Linked DNA regions of Homo sapiens. The protein of the gene in region 1 binds, or shares a complex with, the protein of each later gene. Each region holds a gene or a part of one and is shown on either strand. Other genes may lie near its edges.

Region 1 (7,839 bases):
AAGACTGCAGTGAGCCTAGATTGCACCACTGCACTCCAGCTTTAGGCAACAGAGTGAGACCCTGTCTCAAAAATAAAAAATCTCTGAAGTCAAAAAATGCTTACATTAATTTGAAAGTTTCCATTGGAAATGTATTATGATACATGAGCCAAAATTAAATTTTAGTTAAACAATATGCATACACGTTACTCAAATTATCAACACATGAAATCAAAGGAAAGTTTGTCCACAGGGCAGAATTTGGTTCTATGTTTACAAGTTATGGCCGGCATGTACACACAGATTGCCAATATTTGTGGGCATATGACAAATAAAGGCTCTAAAATAAGGTATATGTGAAAATCAGTACAAGGCTTTCCAAGTTTCCCTCACATGCTTAGACTCTAGACCAGGCTTGGCAACCTTTTCCATCGAAGCCCAGAGAGCAAATATTTTAGGCTTTTCAGGCCATAGGATCCCTGTAACAACTACACAACCCTTCCCTTGTAACCACAAGCAACCAAAGACAATACGTAAATAAATGAAGGTGCTTGTGTCCAAATAAGGGTTTATTACAAAAACAGGAGGCAGCCCAGATAACGGCCTGCAACAATCTCGTTTGGCTACTGTGCCCTAGACTCCCAATATTATCAGTGGATAATAGACCCCACAACCCAGATTCTCCAGCTCTACCCTGTTTTCAACGTTCATCCTTTTCCACACCATGGGGCAACACTCATGTCCCAAATCCTCCAGGTTATTTTGAGGGCAACATAGAGGGTTCTCAAAGCAAACCGTGCTTTTTAAATTCTGTAAAACAGTGTGGATCACTCTGTCCTGGAAAGCTGCTAAACTTCAATATTTCACAACTATTTCCAGCTACAGAAAACAGAATACCCATAACTCCTTCTGCTCTCACAGAAACAGCTGAGAAAATTAGTTTGTTTCATCATGTTGTCTATAATCAGACTTTCATAGGCTATTTGGGTCAAGTAAAGCTTTGCTCTCGCTTTCCCTTGTTTAAGAAAAAAAAAATCCATTATAAAAGCTTCAAAAGAACATACTACAAACTCCATGGCTCAGTGGTTGGTTCATAATCTTTCTTGAGTCACGCACCTCTTTGAAAATCTCATGAAAGAATTAACCTATCAGGAAAAAAGCCCATAAAAATTGAGTATAATTTTAAAGGGTTCATAGATCACTTAGAGCCTATTCATGGACTACTGGGTGTCCAAGGACTTCAGGTTTTTCCTTATTCTGTCTTATTTTCTCCTTTTTTCTCCTTTCTTCCCAGTCCTACCCCTAACTCTGTCTCCATCACCCGTTTCTTCCCACAGAACAATGGAAAGAACTCAAAGACACCTGGACTAGAACCTTAGCTTACTTAGTTTTGGCTTCCCTGTCTTGGGGAAAGAAGAACCCCAAAAAAGTATGAGTAGTGTCAGAGGGGAAAGCAGGCCACGTTTCTGGATCTTGCTGCCAGAATGAAAACTAAGGCCTAAGTTAGGTCTTAATTGGGCCTAAGATTATCTCTGGGGTTAACCACTGGTCCCACGTGAGTGCTCCCAACTACCCTTATAGTTATATTTAGTTTAAATAGTCATATTGATGCTGTATCCCAAATTTTCTGGGAATAATCACAACTCCAAACATCTGTCCTGTAGTTACCATAAATATCCTTCTAAAGGCAAGAGCATATGTTCTGGTGTTTGCTTTGGGGGAAAAAAACTCATAATAAGTAAAGTCCATCTTGCTGGATAATTCACTCTTCAGTTTTAGTTTCTTCAGGACTAGAGAACAGATTATTTTTCTATTATCTCTTGCCTATATCCTTCTTTCTTTTCTTTTTTTTTTTTTTTAGAAAGGGCCTCTGTCACCCAGGGTGGAGTGCAGTGGCATGATCATGGCTCACTGCAGCCTTGACCTCCCAGGCTCAAGCGATCCTCCCACCTCAGCGTCCCAAATAACTGAGACCACAAATGTGCACCACCGCACCTGGCTAATTTTTTTTTTAAGAGATGGGGTCTCCCTATGTTGCCAGGCTGGTGTTTCTTAATTTTTCAAATCTTTGGTAGAGAAAGAACCAAGCGAAGAAAATGAGTCATTCATTTATTTACTCCACAAGTATTGAGCATCTAAATGTGCTGTGTACTGTTCCAGATGTCAAAATCTCCACCCTGATGGGAAAAAAAAGACGGCTGGGTGCGGTGGCTCATGCCTGTAATCCAGCACTTTGGGAGGCCGAGGCGGTGGATCACTTGAGGTCAGGAGTCCAAGACCAGCCTGACCAACATGGTGAAACCTCGTCTCTACTAAAAATACAAAATTAGCAGGGTGTGGTGGCACATGCCGTAATCCCAGCTACTTGGGAGGCTGAGGCAGGAGAATCACTTGAACTCGGGAGACGGAGGTCGTAGTGAGCCAAGATCGCGCCATTGCACTCCAGCCTGGGCAATAAGAGCGAAACTCCGTCTCAAAAAAAAAAAGAAAAGAAGAAGAAAAAGACAAAACAAAATAAATTCATAAGAAGTATAGTATGTTAGGTAGCGACAAGTGCTACAGAAAAAGTAAAGCACAGGCCATGAACAGACACCGGGGGTTGGGGAATGAGATGCAATTTTAAAAAGGTCAGGAAACACCTACTAAGAAGGTGACATCTGAGCAGAAACCCAGTGAGAAAGTGTATCAGACAATGTCACTGCTCCACTTAGGTCCCCTCCTTTCCCTTTTTGCCGTTTTTGGGCCACCCCTTTCCTACTATAGGGTGCTTTATTCTTAACATCCAAAACCTGCAGTTTTTCTTCAGAGGACTGCCTAGAGACAACACACAGCGCCTCCCCAGCACTGCACTCGCCCAATCCTCCCACCATAATCCCAAAGGCAGGGAAGAAACCAGGCTGGAGTTGCTGGACGAAGCCAGAAAAAGAATGTACTGAAATCCCTTCTGAGGCCTTTGTGTATCGTACTTTAATCCTTTACATGTCTCTGATGGATATATACATATATATATATATAATTTTTTTTTTTTTGAGACAGAGTCTCGCTCTCTCGCCCAGGCTGGAGTGCAGTGGCGCCATCTCCGTTCACTGCAAGCTCCGCCTCCCGGGTTCACGCCATTCTCCTGCCTCAGCCTCCCCAATAGCTGGGACCACAGGCGCCCGCCGCCACGCCCGGCTAATTTTGTTTTTGTATTTTTAGTAGGGACGGGGTTTCACCGTGTTAGCCAGGATGGTCTCGATCTCCTGACCTAGTAATCTGCCCGCCTCGGCCTCCCAAAAGAGCTGGGATTACAGGCGTGAATATTTTTTAACAAGCAATTTCATGTACATTTTCTCAAGCACCACTCAAGCTGCCTGTCCACGGGGCAGACGACTTCTCCTTTAGTCTTTCTCTTGAATATGCTCTTCAATTTCATTAATCTCTATTCATGAGTATAACAATATTGGAAAAATTGGACAGAGTATCACTTGTTCCTCGCTTTGCAGACTAGAGATGCTTCTAGTCCCTGTTGGCACACTCAGGATGGGGGCTACGGGAAGCCCAAGAATTCAGCCTCTCTCTAAATGTCAACTGTTTTCCAGTAACCACAGGTCAGGGATCCCATACGTTCATTCTCCCTCCACAGTGACCCACAATATCCATCGGGTGTTTATGTATCCAAAGAAGAGGCTACTCATTCCATCTGGTAAACCAACATACTCATGATTTAGTGGAAAGAGCCCTGGAGTGGCACAGAGGGCTGCCTCAATACACACTTACTGAGCGTCTAACAATGAATGGGTCAAGCCCTTCGTAGGCACTGGCAATGGGAAGATGACCAATACAGACGGCTGAACCTTGCTTTCAAGGCCTTCATAAAGCACTGGAGATGACAAACACGGTCCGATACAAAGGGTCGGGTTCAGGACTCCAACCATTATTATCAAAGAGCCACGGGAATACAAAGGAAGGATTACTAGGGGGGAAGTTCCAGGAGGGCATCACAAAGAGACCTCTGAGCTGGATCCAGAAGGACAGATGAGTTTAAGCTGAAAGTGGGGACGGTCGTTCCCGCTGGTGGGAACCGAAGGAGCCGAGGCAGCGCTGAGGCGGAGACCAGGTGGCACCCGCGGCGCTGCAAGGACACACAAGCTGTTGCGAGGGGGTCAACTCTCCGGGCCTTGGCTTAGAAACCTGGGACGATTACACCCTAAAAGCGCTTGGAAAAACTGCAGAACTCGTGCTGATTTTCGCCAAAGCTACTCCCCCGCCGTGAGGGCAGGAAGCCCTGCGAGGCGCCTGCGAGGACGCAAACGCCGCGAAGCAAGTCCTCCACGCCTCCATCCCAGGTTTAGTGAAGTGTAGACTCTGACCCACAGCCTAAAGGAAAGCAAGACCGGAGTCGGGGAGGGCCCCTCCAGGAGCGGGCTCAGCGGGAGTCTGGCCGAACTGCTTGCTGCCACAGTGGTTCCGCGGCCTCGCGCTGAGCGCCATCCGCCGTCTCCCACCGCGGCCCCCACCGCCCCTCCGCAAGGCTCGGCACCTCCCGCCACTTCCTCGGTCGCTGCGGCGGCTCCGGCTCCTCACAGCCGCTAAACCCAGGCCTATTCTGTGTTAGGTCGGGCCTCCTCGGCCCTCTTCGCCGTGACGAATCAGCGCCCGGCTGGGAAAGTATCAAAATTCGGGGAGTTTTGAGGATCCAATGGGTCCTGAAAAAAATCCCTGAGTGTGCTAAGCATCACCGCATCTTCACTAGAAGGTTAGTTTTTCTAAAGAGGGTCGGGTGGGGCCCGGAAAAAAAAAAAAATTAAGAAGAGTGTGGAAAGTGCGAGTGCGGAAGCTCCGGACGCGAGGGGCGGGGCGAGCGCGGGACAAAGGGAAGCGAAGCCGGAGCTGCGGGCGCTTTTTCTGCCCGCGGGTGAGTGTTTCCAAGTGGGACGGACCGGGTCGGTGGGTGCAAGTCGTGGTGTCCCCGCTTGGCTAGACCCCGAGTTCCCGGGGGTTGCTGGGGTTCAGCCTTGGCCGTGGGGCCAGAGCCAGGAGCCGGTTGAGGCCTCCTTGAGGCCTAGCAGAGCGAGGGTTGGGAGGGAGTCCCATCTGGGGCCCCCTCCTTGGAGGCAAGGCCAGTCCCCCGAAATTGGTCAAAGCACCTGTGAATACCCCGTTTTAGGGGAGTTGCTAGTAAAGTACATTCTCCAAGACAAAGAGAGCGACCTCAGGAAGCCGTGGGCAAGGCAGGTCCGTGGTTCACCCCCCACCCGGGCAGAAGGTTCCCCCATTGGTTCAGGCAGCGACTTGAGGACGAGCAGAGCTCTGAAATAGTTTGGCCTGGGTTTGAAACCCAACTTTGGCACTTCCTGGCTGCATATGGCTTCAGACAAGTTGTTTAAACTTTCCGAGACTCCCTTGTTTCATCTGTAAAATGGGGATAGCTGTACATATAAAGTACTTGTGAGTGTTAAGCGAAATAGTGTCATAAGCGTACCCCGTATAAAGTATTTCTTGAACAAATATTTATCGGGTATTTATTTTTATGCCAGGCACCAAAGATGGATCCAACGGTGGACAAATGTACAAGCCCACTCTTAAATTTTGTATTCTAGCAAAAGAGAGCAATAATTTTAAAGTATTAACAATGAAGTATAACGTACAGGGAGCTTATGTTAGTTGTCAGGGTCCCCTGCAGCGAGGCCTGCTGGATGTTGACAGCTCCCTTAATGTGAGCAGAAAGGAAATCTACACCAGAGTCAAAGGTTTCTGGCTGTTCTTTAAGAGGGAAAGACTCAGGTTGGACCATTGAGAAAATGAGCTGTTTCTTTCCACACCAGGACTCATTCCTTATGCTCCAGGGAATTTCCTTAAAATTAATAATAGAAGCGAAAAATCAGATCTATTCCACATGTTTGGTTGCAAATACCTCCAATAGTCATAGAAGTTTATTTGCCTTCTTTCCAAAGATGAATTTTTGTCTTTTTGTACCTCACTATTTGTGATGTATGTTGATGTAAAGAACAAGCTCACATGTGCCTGGTTATGTTGTGAGCTGGTAATACTAGGAAAAAATTTCCTAAGAATTGAGCTAGGTCCTGACATGGTCCCTCTTTCCAAGTAGCATACAATCTAGCCATATTGATAAGTTAAAAAAAAGTTATAATAATATAGATCTGTGTAAACTGTATAGGAATACAGATGGGGGAGCAGTTAATTCTGCCCAGGTAATGTATCAAGAAAGTTCCCTTGAGGAGAAAAATTTTGAAATGGGCTGTGAATGATGAATAAAAGTTTTTCAGGTAGACTCTCAAAATTTATTCCCAGCATTTATGAAGCTATTTACCATTATAAGAGAATGTGAAGTTCATTGTCATACCAATTACCTTTTGCACTGCTTCCAGGAATAAAATGCTGCCTAATTTTAATAAAAATTGTTATCCCAAAAGCATGATACAGTTGCTGATCAGGGAGCTGTCAGTATCTGGTAGGCCTTGTTGCGTTGGACCCTGATAATACATCACTTTCTATTCTCATCCTTGTATCAGTCTGATGAAATGTTTACATGGCGTCAGCAAAATGTTTTCCATACAAGAGGTAGCTTAGTATCACAAGAAAAAACCTGAAAGTACATTTCTAAATATCCCCAGTACTTTATTTTAGTCATTTAATTCTAATCAACCAAATGACCTATAAGAACTAGTTAAAATACACAAAAGGCTTAATTACTAGGAATTAAGGTGAAGTAATTTTACTCAGAAATACCAATTAAATTACCCTATTCATTAGGAAAACATTCTCGTATGCTTGCTGAGTTTTGATTCTCTTTTTTTTTTCCTTTTTTTTTTATTTTAGTGTCTCAGATTCATTCTTAAGGAACTGAGAACTTAATCTTCCAAAATGTCAAGTAAGTTTCAATTTTTATATTTATCAATCTATGTTAATAAGAGACTAATGCCCTAGCAAGTGGGAATTCCAAAATACTCTCATTTTTTTTTCTTCAAAACAGGACCATTGGTAGTTTTGTTGCATAGTATTATATCTCAGTTGTTTACAAGAAGTTATTTATTTTCTTTCAAACAGAAAGACCATCTTATGCCCCACCTCCCACCCCAGCTCCTGCAACAGTAAGTTTTAATTTTCTTGTTAATGTAATAGCCAACTCTGGCCTTGATACAAAAACCCAGATGTCTTCCAGTGACAGTCACTCAATCATCACAGCAACAGGATGAAATTCAGCTTAAAAGAAAAAAAAAAAAGCACTTCCTACTAAATAAAATAATTATTTGCATCTTTCCTTGAACCAACCCCAACATTTAAAGAAACAGTACTGTAAAACTCCAACCTCCTGTGCTCAGTTTGTTTTGTTTTTTCTTTGTAAATGGGAAATAAGTGAAAGTTTTACCATTTCTTTCTTATTAATCTTCACTATTAAGAGTCTTTAAGTTGTTACTGAGTGAATGCTCATTCTGGCTATTTTGTTAAACCTAACCTTCAACTGGTTATGTTTTTCTCTCCTTTCTTGTCTCTCTCTAAAATTTTCATATTAAACAATAAAGCTTCTGAAACTACTCATTGTAAATATTTTCAAGCTGTTCAAGTAAAGATTTCATTATCTATGGGGCAGATCTTGCTATTGAATCTTATTCCACTCCATAAATTATATTTTATTGGTTTGGAAGTATATATGTTTTAAGTAGTTGTGAACGTGTTTTTTCACCCAGGAAGCTCTGGCCCAGCTTGGTCAGCATGTAAAATAATTTTCCAACCCACAAAACAGATTTAGCAGTAACTGTTCAGGTCTTGCTGAAATGGCTTCCTTGTTGGTTTTTTGGGAGGGGGGGTTTTGTTTGTTTTTAAAAAAACACTGTTAGCATGACCAAATTCTACAAA
Region 2 (7,024 bases), on another chromosome or scaffold:
ACCACTATATAGAAAATCAGATAGAGACTCCATGCAAGTGGCTGCTAAAGAAAATGTAGATGGTAAAGTCCCAGGATAAGGATGGAGAGCATTTGTTCGCATTGTATAAAGCTAATAACTATATGGATGCTACCCACAAATAGGTTATATGCAGAGGAACCCCCAGATGCCCCAGTACAGTTCCCCCCAGCCCGGCTCAGCCTTATCTCCGCGTCAGCCTTCCGGAGGACAGATACACACAGGCATGGGCTCCTACCAGCAGAACTCCATGGGGAGCTATGGTCCCCAGGGGGGTCAGTATGGCCCACAAGGTCAGTATACTACCCAGTTAGGAGTAGATACGGGTGAGAGGAGAAAACAGTTCCTTGTCTGATATGTTGCCATCTAGCTTGTAACCTTGTGAGAGAAGGGCTGTCCTTTGCCTTTAATCCACCCAGCCCAGGCCCTGAAGTAGGGCAAGGCAAGATTCCATTTGTCTCCACTTATTCTGTCACCATGAGAAAGTCTTTCAATTTCACTGAGCCTCTGTTTCATTTATAAAAATGGAGATTAGGTGTTTACTCCACCATTGAGCACAGACAATTTATACATGGTAGCTCTTGGTTATTATTTTTTTATTAATTATTTTTAGTGAATAAGTCATAATGGAATAGATCTTTGCTCAAAATTGCAGCCCTAGGCTGATCAAAAGTTGAGAATCTTACACAGAGCATGGAAATAGAAAGGAAGTTATCTTCTTCTGGAAGTTGAAATGCCTGTGTGGCAGCAAAGCCAGCCTTGCTCTGACCTGCCTTTACATGCTTCTGGAATCCCCCCCTTTTTCTCATGGCGATAAAGGCTACCATGAAGTTGATCTCTTTCCTAACCAAAATATTGAATGACATTGTTTGGTGTTCTAGAGTTGAGAGATATTAGTGAGTTGCTAGTGAGTGACTAACCAAGTCTTGTCTTCCTCCCCTCCCAGGTGGCTACCCCAGGCAGCCAAACTATAATGCCTTGCCCAATGCCAACTACCCCAGTGCAGGCATGGCTGGAGGCATAAACCCCATGGGTGCCGGAGGTCAAATGCATGGACAGCCTGGCATCCCACCTTATGGCACACTCCCTCCAGGGAGGATGAGTCACGCCTCCATGGGCAACCGGCCTTATGGCCCTAACATGGCCAATATGCCACCTCAGGTTGGGTCAGGGATGTGTCCCCCACCAGGGGGCATGAACCGGAAAACCCAAGAAACTGCTGTCGCCATGCATGTTGCTGCCAACTCTATCCAAAACAGGTAAGGCCTGGGAAGCAGAGAGGGTGTCAGTGCAAGAAAATGTATTATAGACCCACTCAGATTATTGAGATGCTTCTGGACCTAAACCAGGGGGGGAAAATGGGTGTGTGTGTATGAAGTGTTAATTCTTACATACCTTAGATGGGTCTGAAATTTCACGTGACTAAACATCATATGTAATGAGCTTTATAAAAGACAGGTTTTTGGCCGGGCGTGGCGGCTCATGCCTGTAATCCTAGCACTTTGGGAGGCCAAGGCGGGCAGATCATGAGGTCAGAAATCAAGACCAGCCTGATCAACATGGTGAAACCCCGTCTGTACTAAAAATACAAAAATTAGCTGGGTGTGGTGGCGCACGCCTGTAATCCCGGCTATCGGGAGGCTGAGGCAGGAGAATCACTTGAACCCAGGAGGAAGAGGTTGCAGTGAGCCAAGACTGCGCCACCACACTCCAGCCTGGGCGACAGAGCGAGACTGTCGAAAAAAGGGGTTTTGTGGGGTGTTTTATTTTGGGGTCTTTTGAGACAGGACCCTGCTCTGTTCCCCAGGCTGAATTGCAGTGGCATGACCACAGTTCACTGCAGCCTCGACCTCCCAGGCTCAAGTGATCCTCCCACCTCAGCCTTCTGAGTAGTTGGGACTACAGGCACACACCACCACACCCAGCTAATTTTTTTTATTTTTTATATTTATTTATTTATTTAGAGACTGTCTCACTCTGTTGCCCAAGCTGGAGTGTAATGGCACACTTTCAGCTCACTGCCACCTCTGCTTTCCAGGTTCAACCAATTGTCCTGCCTCAGCCTCCCAAGTAGCTGGTGTTACAGGCACCCGCCACCATGCCCTGCTAATTTTTATATTTTTAGACTGGGTTTCACCATGTTAGCCAGGCTGGTCTCAAAATCCTGACCTCCAGTGAGCTGCCTGCCTTGGCCTCTGAAAGTGCTGGGATTACAGGCATGATCCACCATGCCCGGCCTTTTTTTTTTTTTTTTAAATAGAGATGGGGTCTCAGTGTGTTGCCAGGGCTAAAGACTGCTTATTTTGATGTGCAAAATAAGTGTTCAGAGTAGGTGGTTTAACTTCTATCAGTCAACTTTTTGGTTTCCAAAAGGATTCTTAATGATACATATGTCTTGGATCTTTGGTGTTAGAAATAGCAAATGGTAAGCTTGTGGTTTGCCATTTCTCCTACTGTTTTATGTGGTCCTACGTGTTGACTCTGGTGCTAGAGTACAGAAGGCTCATGTGATTAGGTTTAACAACTTCTTTAGCCACTAAATCTTACTGAGTTGTTGTTGATGAACCAAGGTAGAATAGGGCGATTGACTATAAAGAGGTGGATTTGGTAGAACTTCAGAATGATGGAAGTGCAAAGTTTGCATTGGGCCCCTCAAGAAATAATGCAAAGCCACCTCTGGGTGCTATGCTGAGGGTTCCAGTCTGGTTGGGATTTAGCATGACAAAAAGTGGTACAGTTCAGCATTTCATCTATGCCTTTTGCCACAGACAGGGCCCTTAAATGGAAATACAACTTGACTTTGGAGGTGGCTTTGAGGAAGGCAGTACTTAAAGGACACAGCAGGGCTCTGCTTCAAAGAATTACACCCTTTGAAATTGAGCTATTGTGGCCGGGTGCGGTGGCTCACTCCTGTAATCCTAGCACTTTGGGAGGCTGAGGCAGGTGGATCACCTGAGGTCAGAAGTTCAAGACCAGCCTGCCCAGCATGGCAAAACCCCATCTCTACTAAAAATACAAAAAAATAGCCAGGCATGGTGGTGGGCGCCTGTAATCCCAGCTACTCACGAGGCTGAGGCAGAATGGCTTGAACCTGGGAGGCGGAGGTTGCAGTGAGCCGAGATCATGCCATTGCACTCCAGCCTGGGAGATGAGTGAAACTCCATCTCAAAAAAAAATTGGCCGGGCATGGTGGCTCACCCCTGTAATCCCAGCATTTTGGGAGGCTGAGGCAGGCGGATAACGAGGTCAGGACATCGAGACCATCCTGGCTAATACGGTGAAACCCTGTCTCTACTAATAAAGTACAAAAAATTAGCCGGGCGTGGTGGCAGGTGCCTGTAGTCCCAGCTACTTGGGAGGCTGAGGCAGGAGAATGGCGTGAACCCGGGAGGCGGAGCTTGCAGTGAGCTGAGATCGCGCCACTGCTCTCCAGCCTGGGCAACAGAGCGAGACTCCATCTCAAAAAAAAAAAAAATTGAACTATTGTTTGCTATCTAGAGCTTGAACTCTCTTAGTATCTTTCGTGGGAGGTAGAAGATAAGAAAATCTGGGTGTTGGCCGGGCTCGGTGGCTCATGCCTGTAATTCCAGCATTTTGGGAAGCCGAGGCAGGTGGATCACCTGAAGTCAGGAGTTCGAGACCAGCCTGACCAACATGGAGAAAGCCCATCTCTACTAAAAATACAACATTAGCCGGGTGTGGTGGTACATGCCTGTAATCCCAGCTATTTGGGAGGCTGAGAAAGGAGAATTGCTTGAACCTGGGAGGCTGAGATTGCAGTGAGCCGAGATTTCACCATTGCACTCCAGCCTGGGCAACAAGAGTGAAACTCTGTCTCAAAAAAAAAAAAAAGAAAATCTGGGTGTTAGCTGGACATGGTGGTGCATGCCTCATAGTCTTAGGCACTCAGGAGGCTGAGGAAGGCAGATTGTTTGAGCTCAGGAGATTAAGGCTGCAGTAAGCTATGATCACACCACTGCATTCCAGCCAGGGTGCCAGAGCAATACCCTGTCTCAAGAAAATAAATTAAAGAAAAATAATATCTGGATGTTGCATAGTTCTAGTTTTGGGGACCCATAAATGTTTTCCTTTTAATCCTTACTAGATGATCACACAGCACTATTTGGCTCCAGTTCAAATCTAAAAGCTCAGAGTCTAACCTTTGTCTCTCTCACTTTCCATCTTCTTCCTTAGGCCGCCAGGCTACCCCAATATGAATCAAGGGGGCATGATGGGAACTGGACCTCCTTATGGACAAGGGATTAATAGTATGGCTGGCATGATCAACCCTCAGGGACCCCCATATTCCATGGGTGGAACCATGGCCAACAATTCTGCAGGTAAGTGCTAGTCATTCTCACTAGGGATTTCTTCAAGAGTCACATCACAGCTAAACTTACTGGACTTGAGAATTTTTTTCTCTTTTACAGGGATGGCAGCCAGCCCAGAGATGATGGGCCTTGGGGATGTAAAGTTAACTCCAGCCACCAAAATGAACAACAAGGCAGATGGGACACCCAAGACAGAATCCAAATCCAAGGTAGTGATTTTTGTCTTGACTCCTTTCAACTTTGTGTCCTATCTTTTTCAGTGATAGGAAGGAAAAAGAAAAGAGAGTGACAAGATCCCAGCCTTTTATGACACCGGACTAGATAGTCTCTGAAAAAGCTGCTGTTGCCTCCTCTTATCATGAAAGGTCCCAGAATAATAGCTCAGTGAGTTGGGTCTGGGTTGGTCTAAGGGATCCTGGTAAATAACATAATATTCTCACAGCTGTTTGTTATGGGGGAAATGCCAGACACTGCAGCATCAAACTCTCTGTACTGTTTGGCTGGTGCCCTCTGTGAAACCGTGCCTCCTATACTCAAGCATTGATAGATGGGGTGTGCCATGGGCAACTAGTTGCTCTTCTCTTCCTGAACCTTACTCATAGCAGCAGGAATGGTACCCTGTGTTCTGTAAAGAAGGAGATAAGGCAGATGAGGCTTGAGTCCTTGGCTTCCCTTAGGTTGGTCCTGGGTGTACTGTTAGGCTGTGCGGTAGTAAAGGGTCCTACTCAGCATTTGGGTCATTTGTAATATTTCTGTCCTTGGCCATACCTCACTTTCCCTATCTGTATACATAGGGAAAATAAAAATCATAGCTGTTAATTCCTGTGAGTCTTCACCTCTGGCTCCCAGCCCTTTTGACCACGTTCCTGTCTTGTACAGGATAATATCCAAAGCCCTTCAACCAGGTGGGAAACCTTTCCTTTGTTTAGAAGAGGCAAAGAGTTTCTTTTCATTTTAGTCCATCCCATTGCCTCAAGATCATGTTGTGAGTTTTTCGATTTCTCTAAAACATAGTACCTAAGTATGTTCAGGCTCCTGGGTAGTAGTGTGGGAGCAGTAGTGGCTTTGATGTCAGGTGGACAAGGATTTGATACTCAGCCTGCCACTTAAAAGCTGTGAGATCTTAGGCTTTGCCTCCTGGTGCCTGCTTCCTTATCTTTACAAATGGGGATAATTTTATAATACCTAATATATAAAGGCATCTAGCACAGCACCCAGTACATAACATATATTTAGTGTTAGCTTCCTTCCTTTATAGGAAAAAAAAATTTGGTTCTCTTTTGGCCCTTCAACCTTATGAAGGTAGGACAGGTGTTAGTAACCACCCCAGAGTAAGAAGCTTTAACACTGCTCCAGTCAAGAGACTTCTGAGACCCTTAGCACAGGCTTTGAATCTGACCCATTCCTATGAATTTTGACCTGAACCTTCCAGAAATCCAGTTCTTCTACTACAACCAATGAGAAGATCACCAAGTTGTATGAGCTGGGTGGTGAGCCTGAGAGGAAGATGTGGGTGGACCGTTATCTGGCCTTCACTGAGGAGAAGGCCATGGGCATGACAAATCTGCCTGCTGTGGGTAGGAAACCTCTGGACCTCTATCGCCTCTATGTGTCTGTGAAGGAGATTGGTGGATTGACTCAGGTGAGTGGGCGCCTGACACTTGACTGCCCCTGTGGTTTCCACAAACCCCTTTCTAGGTACTCACTGGCTTCATGTGGTACCATGCATCCCACAGGGACATCATCCCCTCTCCCGCTTTCTGAGTCTAATATTGATAGACCGGGGAGCACAGGTTTCCCAGAAGATAAGGCAGGAAGCAGAGACCTCCCTGGTAGTATGAGGTATTAGCAGTAAGTTTACCGTGTATCTATGGTCCCACTGAGGTGTAAAGCTAGGGAAAGTCTGTGGGCATTCTGATTCCATGGGAGGCAATTTGGCATAGTAGCAAAGACAGGATTTGGAGAGATGGACCTGGTTTTGAATCCCTTCTTGGCCACTTATAACATATATGACCTTAAGGTGTGTAACCACTCTGAACCTTAATTTCATTATTTGTAAAATACAAACAGTATGTAACAGTATATAACCCACTAGACTGTCAAAAGTTAGAAATAACTTTGGCTTTCAGCAAGGTTTCTGCCACATAAATCGGCCTGCAAGATGGTACAGAGGCAGCCAGAGTAGAAGTAGATCTTCCCATTCCTGGAAGCTTCCCAGTAGAGATAGGATTTCAGGAACTGCTTAGTAGAAATAGTTTATAATAAAGGAAGAAGTAGTAGGAAATTATGTGTTTAGTTATTCTGTATGGGAAACTTAAATGAAAACCTGAATTGGACACCACCCAGAGCTTGTGCCTACTCTGATACCTTACAATTTTGTAGACTCAGCCCAGGAAGCAAACAGGTGAGGCAGCACAGACAGACAGCAGACTGTGCCTTGCAGACTTCCCTCCTGTGTATGTTCTGTAGTCACCAGACCAGAAGCCTGCTGTTGGATCAGTTTGTGGCTGAGCTCGGGGAGGTGTGGCAGGGAGGGATTTATTCCAAACCTTCTAAATCAGAAGAGGAAAACAGCTGTCACCAGCAGAAAAGAAAGTGGTTGGAATGAAGCCAGCCAACAGTCAGTTATGAATTCCTTCTCCCTTCAGGCTTTATTCCCCTCCCCCACAAAGGAA
Region 3 (7,024 bases), on another chromosome or scaffold:
TTGCTGTCACCCGAGTCCTACAGCGCTGTTAGGAAGTGTCCTGCACTCTTGCTGTTTCTTGCTAGTAGGCTGAGCCTAAAGACTGACTTGATCTCCTTTGCAAGGTTTGGAATTTGAATTGTGGAGGTAAACTGGCTGTAATAGTCTCCAGACAGCTGCCTCTGAGTTGACATCTAATCTGCCATCTGATTGGCTCCCCTCTCACCATTGGGCATTTAGCACTGCTGATGTAAATAGAAGTGCTGAGCAGTACAGTCACAAAAATTCTTGCCACAAATAATAACTGAGCTCTATTACAAGCAAATGTAAGGTTCAGTATTTAAAGCTGAAACTATTATGAATCATAGTTATTAATAAGAGGATCAAATACAGAAAAACAGTTCGCTGGTGTCCAGTATTGGGCATTTACAAAATTCAGATCTTTGATGATAGTCTTAGAATATGCACATTACATATATCATAGACTTTAATTGGAGGCTGAGGATAAGGCCATTGAAAAATAAGTAAACCACGAATTTTACCAATTTTTGGATTTGTAAAGCCTTTATAAAAGTCTTCCCTTTACAAATTCAACTATGGAAAAATTTGAATTCTGTCAGCACACGCAGCTTAATAAAACCTTAAAATTTTTTTAAGATTTTGATAGGCAGCAATATATTTTGGTGATGTGTAATTCACCTGATAAACAAGATTTAAGCTTCATTTTTTTGTGATTTATCAGTTCTGACTGTTCAAAGATATTTGTGGATGAGGAGTTTTGGTTAGAATTGACATATTTAAAAAACGAAATGAGGAAACCACATATTTGTGCAGATAACAATAATTAAAAGGGGAAAAATGAGATATTCCTGTGAAATACTAAGAATCATTTCATATTTGCTTTTGATGTGGAGAATACAGAAATGCCCCATAATCTTTTTTTTTTCTTCATTGTTTTGTTAGATTAGGTAATTTGAGCCTTGTTTGAACTGCTTACACGATGAATTAGGGAAACTATATTCTAAGCAAGTTGTGCTGGGTGTCTTTTTTTCCAAATAATTTTTCTTTCATGTTAATGCTATGAAAGTTTAAAAAATCCTAATCTGTTAGAGAGGAACAACAGTCGTTGTATGTATATTTTTATGTAACTCATTTATTTTAGGAAGAGGTATTTTAACAATAATCATACCTTAGAGACTTGTCAGAGTGAAGGAAGGGCTGAATTTAACAAATAATCTTGTGAATCCTAGGCTGAACACTGCTGTCCACTGCTTTCAGATCTTTAGTTATTGGAGTTTTGCTTTTAAGGATAATAGATTTTTCTATTCTTAATAGAAAACTTGTGATTTCAACTTGTTTTTGATTCACACGAGGAAAAACATTATAGAGAAGAATCATGGAAATAAACCCACGTAATTAATTTTAAAAAGGTTTGCTTTGTCAGCCTGCTTTTAAAGGAGCAGTTTAAAATTCACATCTTCGTAAACTAGAGACGAATGAAGTTAGAGGCAGATGTAGGACCATGTTACTTTAGAGTATTTTTTTCTTAATGGTACCAATCATTTTCAGTATTTTGTTTTCTTGTAATGAGAATGAATCCATTATGTCCCTATGACCCTTGGGAATAGGCTTTTTTTTTTTTTTTTTTTTTTTTTTTTTGTTGAGGTTGGGGGAAATATGGACATGCGACCTAGATTCAGGAATTTCTTTTAAGTACCTTACCGTGTAACATGTGGAATGTGTCTTTTTTACAATCCTTTTTTTTCTTTTCTTTTTGGAAGTTAGTATTATTTAGTATTAGTTGTTGTAATTATACTAAGAAACAGTCATTTGTCCAAAATATTAAATTACTGCCTGACTGTAGGTCATGAAATGCTATTAAATCACATTGTTAAATGATGAAATATTTTGGCTTTTAATATGTTTTTAGTTTCATTTTTGATTTCAGGAAATAGTTTCTATTGGGTGGCAAATGTTTTCGTAATTGGGACAAAACGTGTATATATTATAGGAGAAGGGTCTTTTTAAAAAGTGAAATAAGCCATTTGACGATTCAGTTTATTACTAGATTTTTGTAAGATGAGTATTCAGATGGAGCAGTCTCAAAAGGAATATTGAGGTCTACTCACGCACATAGGTTTTATGATGTCCACATTTCTACTGAATTCCATAAATGCAGTTTTAACTTTTAGTTTTATAAAACGTAGTACAATGTATTAAGAAAAGGGCCTTATTTACCATTAGAAGAAAAGTGATTAGCTAGCATGCGAAGCAGGAAGCTACAAACTGGTTCCTGATTACCTTAAAATGTGTGTGAGATACATTATTTGATAAAATCACTCCCAGTTAAATTTTAGGGTGTCTGATATTTTAAATCTTGTAAACAAATTTTTGTGGCCTAAATTTATATATTTGCCAAAGTATGGATGGCTGTGTATAGTTAGAAAAGGTGGACTTAGTAACTGTGGCTAATGGAAAGGGCCTATCATTTAAAAAACAGGAAAAGAAAATATAACAAATGTCTGCAGTTTTGTTTTCTGAATCATCTGGGATGAAATTATGCATGGCTTAAAATCGTTTTCATTGGGAGTCCTGATTTTTGTGGTACATACTTTTGACAATATTTTGGTAGTTTTTTTTTTTTAGTGGTAGCCACTCTTTAAGACAGCTATCACTTAGGTTTATGTTTATATTAATACTACATCAGTAAGTATATGCTAGGGACTAGCACATCCTTACCTTGAATCTATAATGAGGAACCTTAACCCCTCTTTGCTTTGGCTCTGCTTGTCTATATTTAGTCATGAATTTTTGGCAAGGCTTTTTATACTTGTTCCATTTTTCTCAATGTCATAGTGTATCAGAAGTGTGTTATGGATGTGGAAATAATGCAGATCACACTTGGACACTTTTACTAATATACTTAACCTCTGAATGTCATTTTCCTTTACTGAAATTGAAGAAAATAACGTCTTTATTCTGATATTTAAAAAAAAAAAACATTAATTCTGATTTGAGAACTGATTTTAAAAATGTAAGACAATGTAGAGGAAGACTTAATATAAGCTCATTTGATCGTTTTATTAGACACAGATACCTTTTAAAGAGAATAGGTGTAATAGAATGCGGTTGAGTTTTCAGTTCTATTTTTTATTAATAGACTTTATTTCTTTATGATTCTGGGCAGGGTGTATCTATCTAAAAAGATGACTTCTGATGTAATAGGAACACTTGCTTTCCTAGGATAAATTCCAATATCACAGGCAAACCGAAAAGATGATCATTTCATTTATTTAACCCTACCCTTTCCTAGGAGATGAGTGATTTGATGAACATTTGTTAGGGTTCCATGAAATTTTCTACTCCGTTTGGAGACTCACTGGGGATGTAAATTTTGGATGTGCTGGCCTAGGACTCTGTATTCGCTTTTTTGCCGGTGTCCTCAATCTGGAGGCTTTTCTTGCAGCTCTACACTGGACTGACACTGCTCAGCTCATGGGGTTGTGTGCTTTGATCCATGTGGGTGGAAAAGGGACTGATATTTCACTCGTGTCACTTTTGTTTTGGAGTGTATGTGTAGATTTGTAAATTTGAGATTGATATTTATGTTTGATAGAAGTGTGGTGTGTTGCATAAAATGACAGATTTATGGAGGCTGAAAATATTAATAAAACTTAATTCCATTTTTTTTTTGCAATATTTAGGTTTTCCAGTTGGATGTTATAAAATTTTTATGACATTTTACACTGCTGTTATTACTCAAGGGGCCGTATCCACCTCTTAGGCCTTTTTGGGATTGGGTGGTTTTGGTTGCATGCCTTTTCGGAGGTGCCCTTTCCTGAATGGGAGGGAGGTTTTTGCAGGTTCTCTGTGGATATGTAAAGTAGTGCCGCACGCTTGCTGTGTGTGCTTGCTTGAGGCTGAGGAATCCCAAACCCTGTTCCCTGTCGTGTCCGGGAGAGGCACCAGGCAAAACTGTTCCTCTACCAAGAATATATTTCTGTATCATAGATGTAGAACTATTATAAATATCTTTTCTCTAGCTTGGAGGCTATTTGAATGAGACTCAATGGCCCTTTTGGTTTAATTGGGTAATTGAGTGAATTAATTCTGATCTAAAAACTTGGTGTACTTTAGCAACTTTTTCTTCAGGAAATTTGGTAAAGATAAAATGACTTAGGTATCAGTCATTACCTGAGTGTCCTAAGTATTCATTTGTTTTTCCTTATACTGACATCTGAATGAATGGAATGATAGACATATACTATATAGTTTTAATTAGCAATTCACTTTGAGTGAGTGAATTTTTTCAGAGTAGAATATGTGTTTCCACTGTAAGTTTTCACTAAATATGTTCTATTTTCAAAATCTTTGACTTGGAGTAATTCTAAGAAAATTCTTTCCTTACATTTAGTTATTTGTTTTTCTTTTTGAGACAGGGTCTCACTTTGCCACCCAGGTTGGAGTGCAGTGGCGCGATCTTGGCTCACTGTGGCCTTGACCTCCCAGATTCAAGTGATTCTCCTGCCTCAGCCCCGCAAGCAGCTGGGACTACAGGTGCACGCCATCACACCTGGCTAATTTTTGTATTTTTCGTAGAGATGGGGTTTCGCCATGTTGCCCAGGCTGGTCTCGAACTCCTGACCTCAAGTGATCCACCCTCCTCGGCCTCCCAAAGTGCTGGGATTACAGATGTGAACCATCCTGCCAGGCAAGATTTACTTACTTAAATAGGATCCAGTAGGCAGTTTTCAAACCCACATCTGTATGGATCAATGCCAAGAATATTAGAAGGCTACTGAGTTTGACAGATGAACTAATGATGAAATTAACTTGTTTCTTGGATGAGATTTATTACCAGGCACCAGACTAAAGCCCTAAAATCTTAAGCCTATCTGGTTTATGAATAGCTACTCTTATTTCCATTATTAAAATCAGGTAGATGGCAGCAGAATCTGGAGGAGATTCACCCTCTGTTGACCATCTTCTGTAAGGTGCACTTCTCAGTGTCTTCCTGGGCCTTGATGAATGATGAGCTGGAGAACTAGACCAGAAGCCATTCCTTATCAGGTGACTCTGGAAGGGAAGCCATATTTGATGAAATCCAGAAGAAATCCTGGACCATAATGCTACATTTTTTCTTTTTTTGTAATGGGATGCTAAAAAATTAAATATATGGTTTTTTTTTTAAATAGAGGTAAGCTATACGTACATAACATACAACTTACCATTTGAACCATTTTTAGGCATACATTCCAGTGGCATTAAGTACATTGTCATTGTTGTGTGGCTGTCACCATCATCATCTATCCCCAGAACTTTTCCTTCTCAAACTGAAATAAAAATATTTTTCTCTTTCTTTTAAAATTGTTAGCTGCTAATGTGTATTGTAAGTAAAATAATCTTGTTTTTGTAACCATTAATCTTATCACTTCATAGTTTGTGAGTAAATTCTTCCGCAGACATTCCATCAGGATGCTAATGGTTTTTTTGTTTGTTTGTTTTTGTTTTTTATTAGTACATTACTTCCTCTCAATTCTAACTTTGGGGTAATCCTCATAGAGTTTGAGGATCTCTTTGGAGATGTGTATTACAAAGGTTAGTAGTTTCACTGCCAGTTATGTTATTAAAATTTTGAAAAGCAGCTTTTTGGAACCTTTCTAAAGTTTAAAGGTTGAGGGTATTTGTTGAGAGAAACCTGGGACTTGGTTAGATAATAGGGTGTGGAAATGAACTGTTACCATTCTCACTTTTCCCTTGCTTTTCTTCCCTCACCTTTTGCATTTGTAGTCTCTTAAAAATTATTAATTTTATTTTCCCACTATTAGTGAAAATCATTTATAGTGATATTTTTTTCTATTCTTTCTGTGTTTGAAGTTTCTGGGCATCTCACCCCTACCAACCCAGAGCAAACCCAGAGTCTAGGTGGTGCCATGTCCTTTTCCATAGTGTTCTCTGCCACCAAATTTGTGCCTCCCCCTCATGTTTTTACTTTTTAGTCCTCTGCAAAACTTCAGAAATTCTTTGTATGTGGAAAAATTACTAAATTAAGATGATTGACCTTTTAGAATTACATTTTAAAGGCAGCTGTGAAGGGAGACTTCTAGATCCTGCCTAGTCTCATGAACAGGCGTCTTTGGTTTGTGTAAGGTATTGGAATTGTACTGGAATTGCTGCTGATGCTGATAGGTAGTCACATCTTTGTAAGATCAGTTATGTACTTTAACACCAGCTTCCACAGAGAGGAAATGAACTGTTACTTAAGAGCTTGTACTGGGAAGCAATAGTTATTTCTTTAAGGTGTAAACATTTAGCATTTGTGTATGCAGTGAGGTATATGTTAGATAAATATCTACTCCAGACAGTCAATTGGCAAATATTTATTGAGCTCCCACTTTCTTAATCAGCCCTGTGCCAGAGACAGACAATAGCTGGGGTCTGGGGATTGCTGCTGTTGGTGTGCGGATCATGCAGAGATACTGCTAACGCTTGCTCCCTCCATACCTGGATCGTGGTATTGCTGACATCATTGACTTAGAACTGGCTCATTTAAACAAATTGCAGATAGCAACCATGTGGGTCAGCAGTCTATTTGGCCTGCTTTTTTTTTTTTTTTTTCCGGTGGGGCAGTATATTTTGGCAAAACAAAATCTGGTCAACAACAATTGTAGGTTGTTGTGATATAGTTGATGTGATCTAGTGACTCTTTTCCATTTCTACCAATCAGTTACTGGCTTTGTGCCAGAGCGAAATATAGATTCACTACCGAGAATAATAACTAAAAGAAGGAAAATATAATCACTTTCAAATTTATATAGAATGGTCCTTTTTCTTTTTCTCAGTTTTCTACATTACATAGATTCTTGGAAAAAAAGTTAAAACAGTCTGTTCAGATTTAGGAAGATACTTGGATTGCTGGGGTATTTTTGGTAACTGTTTAGATAATGTATGCTGGCTGAGGAGTAAATTCAGCTACTGCTTCTGGGTCCTGAAATAAACCTTTCAGAAAGCGAGGCATTGATGATTAGTGGAGGCAGTTCCAGAA
Region 4 (7,024 bases), on another chromosome or scaffold:
TGCCTGTAATGCCAGCTACTCAGGAGGCTGAGACAGGAGAATTGCTTGAACCTGGGAGGCAGAGGTTGCAGTGAGCCAAGATCGCGCCATTGCACTCCAGCCTGGGCAACAAGAGTGAAACTCCATCTCAAAAAAAAAAAAAAAAAAGGGAGATCAATTCAGCATGGGATTTTGTGAAAGGATTATTAGATTATTAAGTGATGAGAGAATTTACAGTGGAACCTTGACATGCTTTTTCCGTATCTTGATTTTGTAGATCAAATGTTTCCTAGATTTCAAAGCGGGAGGCTCCTTGTGCCACATTCTTGCAGCTGCCTACAAATTCAAGAGTGACCAGGGATGGTGAGATGATTCTCTCTATTCTTCTTATATTTAGTTTAGAGGAAATCCCCCTTTTTGATTCCCTGGGATCTTTCTGGGGTAGAAATTCTTGTGAGTCTCTTTATTTTGCTGGGTCAGTAGACCTGACTTACTACGTCAGGAAGATGGTTGGGAGTCAGAGCCAAAACAGTCTCCAAGAGTGAGTGTGTGAGTATCACTGTGTGTTTTGTAGAGGAAAAGGGATTCTTAGGTTGGCATCTCAAACCTTTTTTTGTCCCTTTGAAGTAAGCACAGAGAGTGATTCATGGAGTTGAGATCAGTGAACCTCAGATCCCAGGTGATGTTTGGCAATAGCTGTGAGCAAGCTTGCCTCCTAATTTCCCATATTAAGAAGTCATGGCTGGGCGCAGTGGCTCACACCTGTAATCCCAGCACTTTGGGAGGCCGAGGTGGGTGGATCATTTGAGGTCAGGAGTTTGAGACCAGCCTGGCCAACTTGGCAAAACCCCATCTCTACTAAAATACAAAAATTAGCCGGGCATGGTGGCGGGCACCTGTAGTCTCAGCTACTTGGGAGGCTGAGGCAGGAGAATGGCTTGCACATAGGAGGCAGAGGTTGCAGCTGGCCAAGATCGCGCCAGTGCACTCCAGCCTGGGCAACAGAGCGGGACTCCCTCTCAAGAAAAAAAAAAAGGCCGGGTGTGGTGGCTCATGCCTGTAATCCCAGCACTTTGGGAGGCCGAGGCAGGTGGATCACCTGAGGTCAGGAGTTCAAGACCAGTTTGACCAATATGGTGAAACCTCGTCTCTACTTACTAAAAATACAAAAATTAGCCACGTGAGGTGGTGTGTGCCTATAGTCCCAGCTACTGGGGAGGCTGAGACAGGAGAATTGCTTGAACCTGGGAGGCAGAGGTTGCAGTGAGCCGGGATCGCGCCACTGCACTCCAGCCTAGGTGACAGAGCAAGACTCCATCTCAAAAAACAAACAAAAAAGTCACGTGCCCTCACCTCATCTGCAGACCTGAGCTATACCACTCACTAGATTATTGCCTCTTCACAAGGCGGCGTTACGATTTCCAGAATCCATCACGCATGGACCGCAATGTGGAAATGTTTATGACCATTGAGAAGTCCTTGGTGCAGGTAATAGGCATATACCCTATTTATCTCCCTTCCCTCAGTGAGAATCTAAAACACCCCTTTCCTATAATCTCATTCTATTTCTTCTCTCCACAGAATAATTGCCTGTCTCGACCTAACATTTTTCTGTGCCCAGAAATTGAGCCCAAACTACTAGGGAAATTAAAGGACATTATCAAGAGACACCAGGTAAATGGTCTGGTGAGGAGAGGTTTCAGAAACTCCATGACTGTTTTCCCAGTGTTTTCTATACCAAGCAGCAGCCCTGAATTACCATGTTTTCTGCTTCAGAGGTGGCTCTGTCTACTTGGAAAAAGACTTGAGTTAAAGCCTTGAGTCTGTCTTTTTCTGTCTGCTTCTCCCATTTTTCAGTCCTGACAGGTTTGCATTACTGTTCTAGAGACTATGTTGGCCTGGGGAAAAATAGTATCCACTTCTACTGAGCTAGAGATTGCGTGATCTCAGATAAATGAAATTCCTGCTCTTTGGAACTTTATAGTAATGAATAGATGTCATTGATAAGGATGTACAGTGGACTTTAAATTTCCCATGTATAGATTATCTGTTCAGAAGATTATTTTTGGCAATTTTTAATTCTTTGACTTTTCTCCATTATTAGCACAATCCCAGCTGTTTCCCTCTGCCACTTAGCTGGTGTGTGCTTAGAGAATACAAACTAACTTTAATACTATTATAAGCAAAATATGGTTAGGAAGGCAGCTCTGTGGCTAAACCTTGAGTAATTCAGAGGGGACCATAATTTACCCGCTTCTCCTTTTACCATCCAGGGAACAGTCACTGAGGATAAGAACAATGCCTCCCATGTTGTGTATCCTGTCCCGGGGAATCTAGAAGAAGGTGAGACCTGGGTTTTCCTGTCCACTTGAGTGGATGGTTTGGACTAGGAGGCAGAGGACTAAGATCACCATTCAGTACCTGGGCTCCTCCTCTTCTTTCAATCTTGAATCCTCTTACCACCTTAAGTTCCTATTACCAAGTCCCCTGCTACAACAGGAGAGTGCATTAGTTAGGGCTTTTGTACAGTATTTTTTTTGTGTCCCCCTTTAGCTTATATCTCTCCCTTCTCTTCCTCTATCCCCAGAGGAATGGGTACGACCAGTCATGAAGAGGGATAAGCAGGTTCTTCTGCACTGGGGCTACTATCCTGACAGGTGAGGATGGGTTCCTGGGGCAGGTTTAAGTATAAGAGCCAGACCCAGAAGCCCTAGGACATCTAGCAGAGCAAGAGGCCACTCTTTCAGAGTTATTTTTAGATCACTTAATTTGTTTTCCTCTCACCTAGTAAGTGAACCTCTGTCTTGGGGGAGGTTTGGACTTAGTGGACAAGCCTTGGGCTAAAAGGATTGAGGCTTTATGTGTGAATTGATTATCCCAGCATCATTTTCGATAAGTAAATGTTAGAAACAATCTAAATGTCTAACAGTAGGAAAATGTTTCAGTAAATTTGTATATCTACTCAGTGGACTATTATGCAGTCTTTAAAGTGATATAACATGGATAATTTATAAGTGAATATTATTAATAATTGCAAAAAGTAGCATGTAGGCCTGGCATGGTGGCTCACGCCTGTAGTCCCAGCACTTTGGGAGGCCAAGGCAGGCGGATCACCTGAGGTTAGGAGTTCGAGACCAGCCTGGCCAACATGCTGAAACCCCGTCTCTACTAAAAATACAAAAAAAAAAAAAAAATTAGCAGGGCGTGGTGGCACACGCCTGTAGTTTTAGCTACTTAGGAGGCTGAGAAGCAGGATAATCGCTTGAACCGGGGCAGCAGAGGTTGCAGTGAGCCAAGATCACACCACTGCACTCTAGCCTGGGCGACAGAGCGAGACTCTGTCTCAACAAAACAAAACAAAACAAAAAATAGCACGTAGGCTGGGTGCAGTGGCTAATGCCTATAATCCCAGCACTTGGGGAGGCTGAGGTGGGCAGATTGCTTGAGCCCAGGAGTTTGAGACCAGCCTAGGCAACATGGTGAAACCCTGTCTTTACAAAAAAAAAAAATACAGAAATTAGCTGGGCATGGTGGCATGCACCTGTAGTCCTAGCTACTTGGGGGGCTGAGGTGGGAGGATTGCTTGAGCCCAGGAGGTTGAGTCTGCATTGTGCCATGATTGCACCACTGCACTTCAACCTGGGCAATAGAGCAAGACCCTGTCTCAAAAAAAAAAAGCATGTAAAATATCATCTAGTATGGTTATGATTATGTAAAAACATCATCTAGTATGGTTATGATTATGTAAAAAGAAAATTGTGGACCAGGCACAGTAGCTCACTCCTATAATACTAGCACTTTGGGAAGCCAAGGCAGGAGGATCACTAAAGGCTGGAAGTTCAAGACCAGCCTAGGCAGCAAAGTGAGACCCTGTCTTAACAAAAACAAAAACCCCAGCTGGACGCGGTGTCTCATGCCTGTAATCCCAGCACTTTGAGAGGCCGAGGTGGGTGGATCACGAGGTCAGGAGCTTGAGACCAGCCTGGCCAAGATGGTGAAACCCCGTCTGTACTAAAAATATAAAAATTAGCCGGGCGCAGTGGCAGGCACCTGTAATCCCAGCTACTCGGGAGGCTGAGGCAGGAGAATCGCTTGAACCCGGGAGGCGGAGGTTGCAGTGAGCCGAGATCGCGCCACTGCACTCCAACCTGGGTGACAGAGCAAGAGCAAGACTCTGTATCAAAAAAAAAAAAAAATTACTGTGGAGGAAAAACAGATATACAAGTATCAAGAGTAGTTACGTAAGGGTGATTCTTTTTGTTCTCTATTTTTGAAATGTTTCGTAATGTGCTTTTACTACTTTATAATGAATAGAATACAAAAAAAATAAGCCAAGAACCCAATACTTTCTGTAAATGGAAAGGGTAAAAGATCTGCACTTTACTTTTCCACAATTCTATCCCATTGATTCTACTGTGTGCTCAATTTCCCATGGCAGTTACGACACGTGGATCCCAGCGAGTGAAATTGAGGCATCTGTGGAAGATGCTCCAACTCCTGAGAAACCTAGGAAGGTGAGCTTTTCTTGTATCCCCTCTTCCCCAAAAAGAATGCCAGGAACAGTCTACCCTTTGGAAGTGAAACAGAGGCTTGTATGCCCTTGAGCTTTTTCTGTTAAGGGTCCCCAGACAGAGCTGTGGCTTCCAGGCTTCTCTGCAGCATGATCTGCCTTTGTACTTTAGGTTCATGCAAAGTGGATCCTGGACACCGACACCTTCAATGAATGGATGAATGAGGAAGACTATGAAGTAAATGATGACAAAAACCCTGTCTCCCGCCGAAAGAAGATTTCAGCCAAGACACTGACAGATGAGGTGACAAATCCTGTTCTTTTTTTCCTGGCGCCCTTAGCATAAGTCTCAGAACAAATCTTCAGTGGGGATTGTAGGCTGACATTTGTCCTGATTCTCCATCCTATAGGTGAACAGCCCAGATTCAGATCGACGGGACAAGAAGGGGGGAAACTATAAGAAGAGGAAGCGCTCCCCCTCTCCTTCACCAACCCCAGAAGCAAAGAAGAAAAATGCTAAGAAAGGGTGTGCCAGCCCCTAGCCTGCCCCCGTGTTCACCATTCTCTCCACATCATGTTGAAGGAAGGAAAGACAAATCCCTTCCTATAACCACCTGGCCCTGACCTGGGTGTGCCATAATACTGCAGGTGTCCTGAGAGGGAAGATGAGGAGATCTTTAGCTGCTCAGTTGTTAGTTCTGGTTCTGGCCCCACTAGTACATTTAAAGAGAGCTTTATCAAGTGAAAAGCCTTTGCCACTTCCCATTACTGTGTGATTACTGGTTTCTGTTTGTACTCAGCTCTACCCTTGGAATTCTCTGTCACTTCCCTTCCCTTGAACTTCAACTTCCAGGGACTCCTTGTCCAAGGATGACTGGGTTCTCTTTCACTCTCTTTCCTTCCCAGTCCCTCAACACCTTACACTAAGTCAAAGCGTGGCCACAGAGAAGAGGAGCAAGAAGACCTGACAAAGGACATGGACGAGCCCTCACCAGTCCCCAATGTAGAAGAGGTGACACTTCCCAAAACAGGTACAGGCCAGGCTGAGCTCCTGGGATCCACCCCCACTCCCCGTCTTGACTCTCCTTTGCCAAACCCCAAGTGAGCTGATTTCTCAGGTCCACCTCCCAGTCTACAGGATCTTTTCCTTAAATTTAGCTGGTTATTGGAATTACGGTCATTACCCTGGAAAATCCTCTAACTGTATATTCATATCTGAGTTGTGGACTGTGCTTTGTGCCTGATAGTAGTTGTCTCCAAACTCTTTGATTATGTGTTTCTGACAGTAAAATATATTTGAGCATGGCCAGGCACGGTGGCTTATGACTGTAATCCCAGCATTTTGGGAGGCCGAGGCGGGCGGATCACCTGAGGTCAGGAATTCGAGACCAGCCTGGCCAACATGGTGAAACCCCATCTCTACTAAAAATACAAAAATTAGCTGGGCGTGGTGGTGGGCACCTGTAATCCCAGCTACTCGGGAGACCGAGGCAGGAGAATTGCTTGAACCTGGGAGGTAGAGGTTGCAGGGAGCCGAGATTGTACCACTGCACTCCAGCCTGGGCGACAAGAGCAAAACTCCATCTCAAAAAAAAAAAGGGCCGGGCACGGTGGCTCATGCCTGTAATCCCAGCACTTTGGCAGGCCGAGGTGGGCGGATCACGAGGTCAGGAGATCGAGACCATCCTGGCTAACATGGTGAAACCCTGTCTATACCAAAAATACAAAAAAATTAGCTGAGCGTGGTGGCGGGTGCCTGTAGTCCTAGCTACTCAGGAGGCTGAGGCAGGAGAATGGCGTGAACCTGGGAGGCGGAGCTTGCAGTGAGCTGAGATCACGCCACTGCACTCCAGCCTGGGCAACAGGGCGAGACTCCATCTCAAATAAAAAAAAAGAAAAAAAAATGTATATATGCATTAATTATGTACTTGTACTGTTAAGCCGCTACCATGGGAACGTTTTAAAACACAAACATATCTAAAAAATTGAAAAATGTAAAGAATGATAAAAACAAACATGAAGAATCAGGGCGCGGTGGCTTACGCCTGTAATCCCAGCACTTTGGGAGGCCGAGGCAGGCGGATCACGAGGTCAAGAGATCAAGACCATCCTGGCTAACACGGTGAAACCCCATCTTTACGAAAAATACAAAAATTTGCCAGGCGTGGTGGTGGGCGCCTGTAATCCTAGCTATTCGGGAGGCTGAGGCAGGAGAATCACTTGAATCTGGGAGGTGGAGGTTGCAGTGAGCCGAGATCGCACCACTGCACTCCAGCCTGGGCGACAGAGCGAGACTCCGTCTCAAAAAAACAAAACAAAAAACATGAAGAGAAGTTCTGTATTCTCTCCCTGAGTTGCAGTGGATCATCTTTTGCGTCCTATGTTAGAACCCCACTTTGGAGACATTGCTCCACCAATACTGGTTTACAGTCTGTATTCTGTAGACTCACCCCAGGTATTCCAGAAGTGTATTTCAGGGGTAGGATTAGGGCTGCCACCAAGAAGAGTTCTGGCTTCTACCTCCTCATCAATCAG

The links.
Region 2: SMARCE1 (region 1) and ARID1A share a complex: the UniProt entries of both Homo sapiens proteins name them as parts of the neuron-specific chromatin remodeling complex.
Region 3: SMARCE1 (region 1) and ARID1B share a complex: the UniProt entries of both Homo sapiens proteins name them as parts of the neuron-specific chromatin remodeling complex.
Region 4: SMARCE1 (region 1) and SMARCC2 share a complex: the UniProt entries of both Homo sapiens proteins name them as parts of the BAF complex.

What each region holds. Positions count from the first base shown.
Region 1 is NC_000017.11:40,644,810-40,652,648, reverse strand, and holds the start of SMARCE1 (SWI/SNF-related matrix-associated actin-dependent regulator of chromatin subfamily E member 1), read left to right. Parts: upstream 1-4,830; 5' UTR 4,831-4,876; intron 4,877-6,801; 5' UTR 6,802-6,846; coding exon 6,847-6,853; intron 6,854-7,029; coding exon 7,030-7,073; intron 7,074-7,839. UniProt on the Homo sapiens protein: Involved in transcriptional activation and repression of select genes by chromatin remodeling (alteration of DNA-nucleosome topology).
Region 2 is NC_000001.11:26,762,009-26,769,032, forward strand, and holds part of ARID1A (AT-rich interactive domain-containing protein 1A), read left to right. Parts: intron 1-143; coding exon 144-311; intron 312-964; coding exon 965-1,277; intron 1,278-4,212; coding exon 4,213-4,358; intron 4,359-4,448; coding exon 4,449-4,558; intron 4,559-5,781; coding exon 5,782-5,991; intron 5,992-7,024. UniProt on the Homo sapiens protein: Involved in transcriptional activation and repression of select genes by chromatin remodeling (alteration of DNA-nucleosome topology).
Region 3 is NC_000006.12:156,780,367-156,787,390, forward strand, and holds part of ARID1B (AT-rich interactive domain-containing protein 1B), read left to right. Parts: intron 1-7,024. UniProt on the Homo sapiens protein: Involved in transcriptional activation and repression of select genes by chromatin remodeling (alteration of DNA-nucleosome topology).
Region 4 is NC_000012.12:56,179,473-56,186,496, reverse strand, and holds part of SMARCC2 (SWI/SNF complex subunit SMARCC2), read left to right. Parts: intron 1-256; coding exon 257-342; intron 343-1,385; coding exon 1,386-1,467; intron 1,468-1,560; coding exon 1,561-1,653; intron 1,654-2,252; coding exon 2,253-2,322; intron 2,323-2,566; coding exon 2,567-2,636; intron 2,637-4,417; coding exon 4,418-4,493; intron 4,494-4,661; coding exon 4,662-4,793; intron 4,794-4,899; coding exon 4,900-5,015; intron 5,016-5,395; coding exon 5,396-5,520; intron 5,521-7,024. UniProt on the Homo sapiens protein: Involved in transcriptional activation and repression of select genes by chromatin remodeling (alteration of DNA-nucleosome topology).